Regions from separate parts of the Homo sapiens genome. Here region 2 is reported to be linked to region 1. Evidence: microRNA targets listed by miRTarBase, many of them from high-throughput screens and not tested one by one. Region 1 holds a microRNA gene; the other region holds the end of a gene's coding sequence.
Evidence for each region. Region 1 holds the annotated microRNA hsa-miR-1295b-3p (AAUAGGCCACGGAUCUGGGCAA, at 2,773-2,794, opposite strand). A microRNA usually pairs through its seed, bases 2 to 8, with sites in the 3' UTR of a target mRNA and lowers its output. Matches are read on the target gene's strand: a 7mer-m8 pairs with bases 2 to 8, a 7mer-A1 pairs with bases 2 to 7 and ends in A, and an 8mer does both.

Region 2: miRTarBase lists AGBL3 as a target of hsa-miR-1295b-3p. The part of its 3' UTR that is shown has no 7-base or 8-base seed match.

Annotation. Positions count from the first base shown.
Region 1 is chr1:171,100,164-171,104,570 of GRCh38, reverse strand. MIR1295B (microRNA 1295b) reads right to left here and starts at 2,832; the gene lies at 2,773-2,832. It overlaps FMO3 (flavin containing dimethylaniline monoxygenase 3), which reads right to left. Exons shown (of 9, transcript NM_001002294.3): 3 at 598-786. MIR1295A (microRNA 1295a) reads left to right here and starts at 2,765; the gene lies at 2,765-2,843.
Region 2 is chr7:135,134,434-135,138,840 of GRCh38, forward strand. It overlaps AGBL3 (AGBL carboxypeptidase 3), which reads left to right. Exons shown (of 17, transcript NM_178563.4): 17 at 408-1,345. The coding sequence ends at 828. It also overlaps a transcript of CYREN not described here. Among named protein-coding and RNA genes, the nearest start is that of TMEM140, 11 kb to the right of the region's middle.

The DNA of each region.
Region 1 (4,407 bases):
CTTTCAAATAATTAACTTTCAATTTGTACATATGCTTTTTTACATTTTATAAATTTATTTTATATCCCCTTCATTCTATGTTCTTTGAGTTTATTCTGTCTTTCTTTTACTAATTTTTTTAAACTTTCTTACCTTATTTTTAAACTTTTTCATTTTCTAATATAAACATTTACATTTATAATTTTCATGAAAATATAGCTTCCTATGTTTCCCACAAGTATTGATACATAGACTAAATTAACATTCAGTTATAGATATTTTTAAATTCCCATTGAAATTTCTTCTTTGACCTATATGTTATTTAGATAAAAAGAGTTTTTAATTTCCAAATTCACAGGTATTTTATATTTATTTCTTTGGTATTGATTTCTAAATTAGTAGTGATTTAGTCTAAGAACTGTAGGTGGTCAAATTTTGTGAATTTTCTATGTATCCTTGAGAAGAAGGTAATTCTCTAAACCTAGAGTTAGAGAGGCCACACTGTTAAAAATGTTGACAAATTAGAAAGGGAAACTGAAAGGAACAAATGAGAATCCAGTAGTAGACATAGACTTCTTCAGCATTATGACAAGAGCTAAATTGTTGATAACATCTTACCTTAAATTGTATGTACTTCAGGAGGTTCTTTTCTTTGGCAAATGCAATGATATATTCCTGGATCTTGCTGTTGTGCATAAAGTTGGGGAAGTCATCGGGAAATGGGAAGTCTGGGAAACACATCATCTCTTTGGAAGAGTTGGAAAAGACTGATTTGTAAATGCTAGCCCTGCCCTCCTCTGCATGGTCCTGTGAATGTATAGTATCAAATGGAAGCGAATTGGTAAATGAGTATACTGATCATGGTCAGGGCTGGTTCCAAGTAATTACAGTCATCCCTTGGTATCTATGGAAGGTTCCAGGACCTCCGTGGTTACCAAAATCTACGAATGCTCAAGTCTCTTACATAAAATGATATAGTATTTTCGTATAACCTATATACAGATACTTTAAATCATCTCTAGGTTACTTATAATACCTAATGCAATGTAAATGCTTAATGAATAGTTGTAGTGTATTGTTTTTTGATTTTGATTTTGATTTTTTATTTTTATTTTTGGATTTTTTAAATCAATGGTGGGTTGAATCTGTGGATGCAGAACTTGCAAAAACAGATGGCCAAGTGTATACTTATTTGAGTCATCCTTTATCCACAGTAAATTCGGTAAGACACACATAAATTAACTTCACTTCAACAATTGATGCTAATCATGGAAACTTACTAAGGGAACTTAGGATATGGAAGAATACCTTTCTTAATATCTTTTAAGAAAATATATCTTAATCTTTTCTAAGGGAAACAAATTTTAAATTTCATTATGTCCTTTAGGCCTATGTAACTAGAATCCTTTCATTCCCTTGAACCATTAAATATGGTGACAGAGATTTTTCAAAATTCAACCTTGCATAATTTCAATGTGTCAACTCATGAGCACAAGCATCTAATGGTCAATTTATAAAAGCAAACAGTAACAAGAGGTTGCAACTATTGATCAGATTTGTAAATGTAAGCATTTTAAGACCTAATTTTTAAAAAATTAACCTTAGAATTTCTATAATGTATAAAATAAGGTTAACTATTTTGAATCTAACACAGAATTTATGGGCATTGCATGCCTTTTAAGCACTTATGTAAGTAACAAAGTTTTAGCTTTCAATGATGTAAAAATATCTGAATTTTCTTTAACTCTAAGGAATTATAGAACTATGCTAATAAAGCCTTAGAGGAAATGTTAAGTGATGATGAATAAAGAAAAAGAACATTGAAGAAAGAATGATCAGTAATGAGAAGTTTAGGATATTGTGTTGTGGTTCTTTAGCCACACACTGAAATAAACTGGGAGCTTTAAAAAACACACTGAGCATTAGGTCCCACTCTCAGAGAATTTGATTTAATTGACAGCAAGTTTTAAAAGCTCTTCAGGTAATTTTAAGGTGCAGCCAAGTTTGTCAGTCACAATGTAGAGTTCAACAAATGGAAGCTCATGACCAACAGGCTACAGTTACTGTGGAAGAGCTTACCATAGGACACATCTGTTACAGCTGTGAGCTCTGCAAAGCAAGCTGTTGAATGAATAAAAGGCATTAAGTTAAAAAAAAATACTGGTTGGAGCATGATTAGGAAGAGGTGGAGCCTTGGTTTAGCTCTGTTGAAGCATCAAGGTACTTATATCTCAAGTTTCATGATGAAAGATCAGATTGTAGATCTCTATGTGTAGTTGCTAGTTCATAGTGGAAAGTACTGAGCACTAGAAACTTCTAATTAGAGCTCATCTAACTGAAAGTTGTCAGGGCTCCCAGAACATGAAATTTTAGTATAATATTGGAATATTACAATCACGTCAAAAGCCAATGTGGCTGCAGTTTCATTATTGACAAATAATTAATTGGCAGATTAGTTGCCATGTTCATTTCAGAAAGCAGCGTGTTCTTTAAATAGGACATGAGTTTTCTGCTGCTCACATGGTTTGTTGACTCTGCTATAGGCATGTGGGATGGGGAAGTGCAAAAATTTGTAGCTTTCTGTGAGTTGGGTAAGTTTAAAGAGATGATAATCAGCATAAAGAGAGAAGAAACATTAAAGAAAAAAATTGATACATAGTCCAGAAAAAAATCAGAGGAAGTTAAAAAAGGGAGGTATTCCCAGAAGAAAGCCACTATTCATAAAACTTCATGCAAAAATTCATATGATTTACTGATTTATTGTTTGGGGAGCTCCTGAGAAAAGAGGACATTTTGCCCAGATCCGTGGCCTATTCAGAAATGTGGCCTGTGATTAGGCCGCAGATCTGGGTGAAATGTCCTCCTTCTGTGACCAAAGAAGGTGAGGGAAATACATCATCGTGGCTCTAGATCAGGGTTAGAAGTCAGAACTAGAAGGGCATAGAAAGTGCTGTAGTAAACAGCTCCAACAGTTTCAACTATATGCACCCTTAGTGTTAGCTAAGTTTTAACCAATGTTTGGATCTCTCTGAAATTTAAAAAAAGTTAAGATAATGTAAAATGATGATGTTAGAAACCAAAGGGAAGGCAAATACAAAATTAGAACAATTTTATAACAATCTTATAATGTGAATACTAAGCCTATTGCTGCAGACTTCTAGTGATCTGAGAAACACTGCTGTTTGCTCCATCATTTGCAATCTATAAGCCCCCTCACAGTAGTAAAATAGGAAACGCTGAAAAACCAAAGGTATTAGTTTCTTGTGGCTGCTGTAATAAATTACCACAAAGTTAATGGCTTAAAATAATAGCAATTGATTCACAGTTCTAGAAGTCAGCAGTCGGGAATCACTATCAGTAGGCTGAAAACGAAGTGTGACAGTACCATGTTCATTTTCAGAGGCTCCAGGAGAGAATCCATTCCTTGCCGCTTCTGGCTTCTGGTGGATGCTGGCATTTCTTATTTTTTTCAGTGGCAAGACCCCTCTTGTACGCCTTCACTCATGGCTCCTCTGGCCATCATCAAAGATAGAGCATAGCATCTTCAAATTTCTCTCTTTCTGTTGAGGTCATCACATCACCTTCTCTCTTCTCTTTGTGTTAAATCTCCCTCTGCCTCTCTCTTTTAACGATGCATTCATTATAGCGTTTGGGGCTCACCCACATAATGCAGAAAAATCTCTCCATCTTAAGATTTTTAACTTAATTATATTTGCAAATACCCTTTTCTCTTGTAAGTAAGATAACATTTACAGGTTCCAGGAATTTGGATGTGATATCTTTGAGGAGGGGCATTGTTAAATTGTTCAGCCTATTACAGGCCATCCTCTGGTTCCCAAGGATTCACATCCATCCCATCTGCAAAATACATTAACCCAATCCCAACATCCTCAAAGTCTCAACCCATAGCAGCATGAAATCAAGTCTCAACTCTCATTTATATATTTTCAATTCAAAAGTCCAAAATCTCATCATCATATAAATTATCTAAATCAGGTATAAATGAGACTCTGGATATGGACCAGGATGAGGCAAAATTTCTATCTGTGAACCTGTGAAACTAGAAAACAAGTTATCTTCTTCCAAAATACAATGGTGGGACAAGCATGGGTAACCGTTATCGACATTCCCATTTAACCGGGGAGGAAAAAGGAGGAAAGAAAAGAATCACTAATCCCAAGCAATTTTGAAATCCAGTAGGACAAATTCCTTCAGGCTTGAAGGCTTTGGCTCAGGCCTCTGCCCTCAGGGCCTGAGGCTCTACCCTCTGGGCTATCCTTTCTTTTTCTTGAAGGGTAGCACATGTTGCAGTTCAGTTTTATCAACCTATGCTGCCAGGTTCAAATTTTAAAGTCTTCCTCGAGCAGCAAGAAAAGACAAATTAGCTGTCTTTGGCTGTGTTCCTCTCAATAGCCATATCAGCAGTGC
Region 2 (4,407 bases), not on the chromosome of region 1:
ATAGAAAAAAATCTCATAGCATATATACTGAATCCATTCTAATAGAATAAACAGAATAGATTTTTAGAGCAAACAACTACTTTACTTTTTAGTGACCATCTACTTTAACTAGATATATAGGTAAGGAGCTGGGGCCCAGAGTGGCTATTATATTAGGAAGGCTGAGGTTAGAGTAGGTATCCAAATAAACATATCCTCTAGGCATTTAGAAATACAGGATTGGAATAGTGCTAAAAAAAAAATCATGATCAGAGATGAAGACTTCTAAATGATGGTAAAATTCTTAAACTTTAAGAAGTTATGAACTTACTAAAAGGAAAAATATTATTTATACTATGACAACATACCTAGGACTACAAAGTAGGTCCATGATGGACAAAAATTCACGTATTTCATTTCTTTTCTAGACTAAATCCGGCTACTTGCAGAAATATAAAGAAATACAGCACATCTTGGACAGCACCCAGAAATCACCCTTTTGTAATCCAAGGGGATGTTATGGCAAACTCTTCAGAATGGGTCCAGTCTAAGCCCCACAGGTCATTGGAAAGTTTATCACCTCTCAAAGGCCCCAAGAAGAATAAACATTCTCAAATCTGGGCCATAAAGAATGAAGACATAAAACCTCTCAGCAGCAAGTGGGAGACTGCTTCTTCAAGCTTTGGAATGGATGCAAATGTTCTAAAATATAAGAGTCTTCAAGCTGAAGAAACTAACCAGCAAAGCTCTAAGCATACAGCCCTCCATCTAACTAAAAATAAGGATGAGCAGGCCAATAAGAATGATGGACAACCCACCTTATATCTGAAGTTCCAAAGGGAGAGTTAATCTAGCTTTATACTGCTCTGAGAACTGTGAATGAAGGATAACATATGCTTATGTAGTAAAAAGAAAAAAAGGAAAGCCCTCCCCTTCCCCTTTCCCTATCTCTCCCCTTACACATGCATATGCATAAACTAAAAATTTTAGATATCCCATCTTCTGTAGTGGGAACATCTTTCAGAGATTTAAAAAGAAATCCAGAGAAAATATGGAAAAATATTAAAGCAGATATTTATATTTAGTTTTTATCAGCATGGAAAAAAATCTCTGAAGTTTTGATTTCTTCCAAAACTACTTACACATTCGACACCAAAAAAACTTAAGAACTCAAAGTAGGAATGACATATAATATGTCACTGATTTTAACCTCCCTACTAGACACTTTAATCAATTAGTCAACAAACATCATTTCCTGATTTTCTGTTATATCATTAGTGTGCTAGGAACCATTTCTCTCTACTAGGAGATTACCACATAATTGTACAGATAAAACATACCTGAATAAAATGATTACAGAATAAGATAAAGTGTTAAGTTGTGCACTTCCAATGATTAGAAAAAATACTGTATATTAAAAGTTGCCAGTTGCACAAAGCAAAAGTGTGGCACAACATGGCACTGAAATGCATAGACTGTGGTTTAAAATAATCATTTTATTTCTCAAAATGTAGCAAAGGTGTAAAGATGTACAGTTTCCTTTACAGCGAATTGGTTTACATCTCCAGCCATTTATTCATGTGAACACTGGAATAAGTCCAGCACCTCAGTTTGTCATTCATAAGGCAGTGAGCACTGGGAGGGATTTGTGAAGGACACACAGAGGAGCAAGTATGTCAGGCAGAAGAGTCAAGATGCATGTAGTAAGTCAGAAAACAGAATCAAGCAGCCTTGAGTCATAGGTCAACAATGGCATCCATTAGAGGATGAGGCTAAGCATAAGAAGGGTCAGGTAGGAGAGGTACATTAAAAATACAGGCCACAGCCTAATTACAGCTGGGTGGAACTATGAAGATCTGGGGTTGAGTGGTCTACTCTCAACAGTATTTCTAGTAGCTAAAGAGTTTCCAAGGAGAGCCCACTGCACTGTTAAAAGAGTAACTATTATGTTTTAAAGGACCATGACCATAGATTTCCTCAGGAATCTTTAATGTCTGGTGGGAAATAGCTATCTTCTAAATACATTAGATGGTGCTTTGAAGGCAAGTATCCTGGTTCTCAAAGAGTACCCCAACTTTTGGTATAAAATTCTCATCCTTAGTGATTATCTTGGGCAAGAGCAGAAGTCTACTTGCTTTTGGGATGCCCTCTGCCAGGTAGGTGCTCGGGCTTGGGAAAGCCAGAGGTTAATGTTCCGGATCATAGCATTTATTGTAGCTGACTTCAGGATGGAGTAAGAGTTCTCAAAATTCCATTGGCCCTTCTCCACAAAGATCAGGACAAAAGCCTAAACTCTGGGAAAATATTTTTAATTCAGTGAAATGTCATTTGAATCTTCGACTGCCTAAGAGTTTGAAATTGTAAACTCTGGAATGTATTGTCTTTGTGGATGACCAAAAAAGGTGATAAACCAGTTTCCTGGAAGATTTAGGGATGCACAGATATTACCTAAACAATTTTACCTTGGTCCATAATTGCACTCCTTGTATTTGATACAAATATAAGATGCTTTACCCAAAGTAAGAGGATTGGCAGTCCACTTCCTCACTATGCTACAATACTTTCAGTTTTCTGAGCATGCCACTCTCTCATAAAAGCTATTTATTCTCTCAGCCCAGCATCTCCTCCACCTGGCAGCCCCTACTTCTTTAAGATTCAACTCAACTGCTGCCTTCTCTGGCAAACCTTCCATATATTTCCATAGAAATTTAAAACAACTACGATGAATATGCTGACAGTTCTAATGGGAAAATTGGACAATGCAAGAACAGATGGGTAATATAAGCAGAGAGATGGGAACTAAGAAACAAAAAAAAAATGCTAGAAATCAAAAACACTGTAACAGAATGAATGATGATGGACTACCCAACAGGTAAGACACAACTGAGGAAAGAGTCAGTATGCTTAAAACAATGTCAATAGAAACTAGCAAAACTTAAATGCAGAGCAAAAAAGAATGAAAAATTCAGAATATCCAAAAACTGCAGGACAATTTTAAAAGGTATGTAACGTGTAATGGGACTACTGGAAGTAAAGGAAAAAAAGGAACACAAGAAATATTGAAGCAGTAATGACGGAGAATTTCTCAAAATGAACGACACCAAACCACAGATCCAGAAAGCTCACAGAATACCAGGAATGATAAATACCAAAAAAATCAAAGACCAAGAAAAAATCTTGAAAAAAACACCTTATGTATAGATAAGCAGGGATAAGAATTACATCAGACATCTCTTCAGAAACCATGCAAGAAAGAAGAGAGTGGAGTGAAACATTTAAAGGGTTTAAAGAACCACTGTCTCAGCTCAGGCTGCTGTAACAAAATACCATAAACTAGGCTGCTTAATGAAACAATAGAAATTTATCTCAGTTCTGAGGCTGGGAAGTCCAAGATCAAGATGTCAACAGATCCAGTGTCCAGTGAGGGCAGTCATCTTGGTTTGCAGGTGGCCTTCTTGTTGTATCCTCGCATGGTAGGGAGAGATCATCCCACGTCTCTTCTTATGATCACTAATCTCATTCATGAGGGCTTCACCCTCATGACCTAATTACCACCCAAAGGTCCTGTCTTCTAATACGATCACACTAGGGGTTAGGATTGCAACATATGAAATTTGGGGGATGCAACATCAGACCATAACAACCGCTGACTACAGTTCTGTATCCAGTGAAATTGTCCTCCAAAAGTGAAAGAGAAATGGACTTTTTCAGACAAACAAAAATTGTGGGAATTTGTCATCTCTAGAGCTGCTCTTTTTTTTAATGTTAAAAGAAATTCTTTAGAAAGGATGAAAATTATACAGGTCAGAAATTCTGGCCTACGTAAACAAAGGGAAAGCAATAGAAAAGGAATAAATGAAGGTAAAATAAAATCTTTTATTTTTCTTAATTACCTAACAGATAATAGTTTGTTCAAAACAATAACAGTGTATTCAGAAATTATAGCTTATTGATAAGTGAAATGAATAGCAGCAATGTTGTAAGGAATCGGAGGGAGGAATTGGGAATACCCTGTTACAAAATACTTGTACTACCAAAGAAGCAAGTGGTATAGGGTTATTTGAGAAAGGATTGGATTCATTGTAAATGTATCCTGTAAATTCAAGGGTAAAAAAGAGGTAGAATTGATATACTAAAATAGGAAAAAAATCAAATCATACAAAATATTCAATTAAAATAGAAGGAGGTAGAAAACAAGTGGAAGACAAAATAATAAAGGTTTGTTACATGGGTAAATTGCATGTTGTGGGCATTTGGTGTACAGATTATTTCATCATTCATGTAATAAGCATAATACACAATAGGTAGATTTTCGATCCTCACCCTCCTCCCACCCTTCACCCTCAAGTAGGCCCTAGTGTCTATTGTTCCCTTCATTGTGTCCATGTGTACCTAATGTTTAGTTCCCACTTATAAGTGAGAACTTGT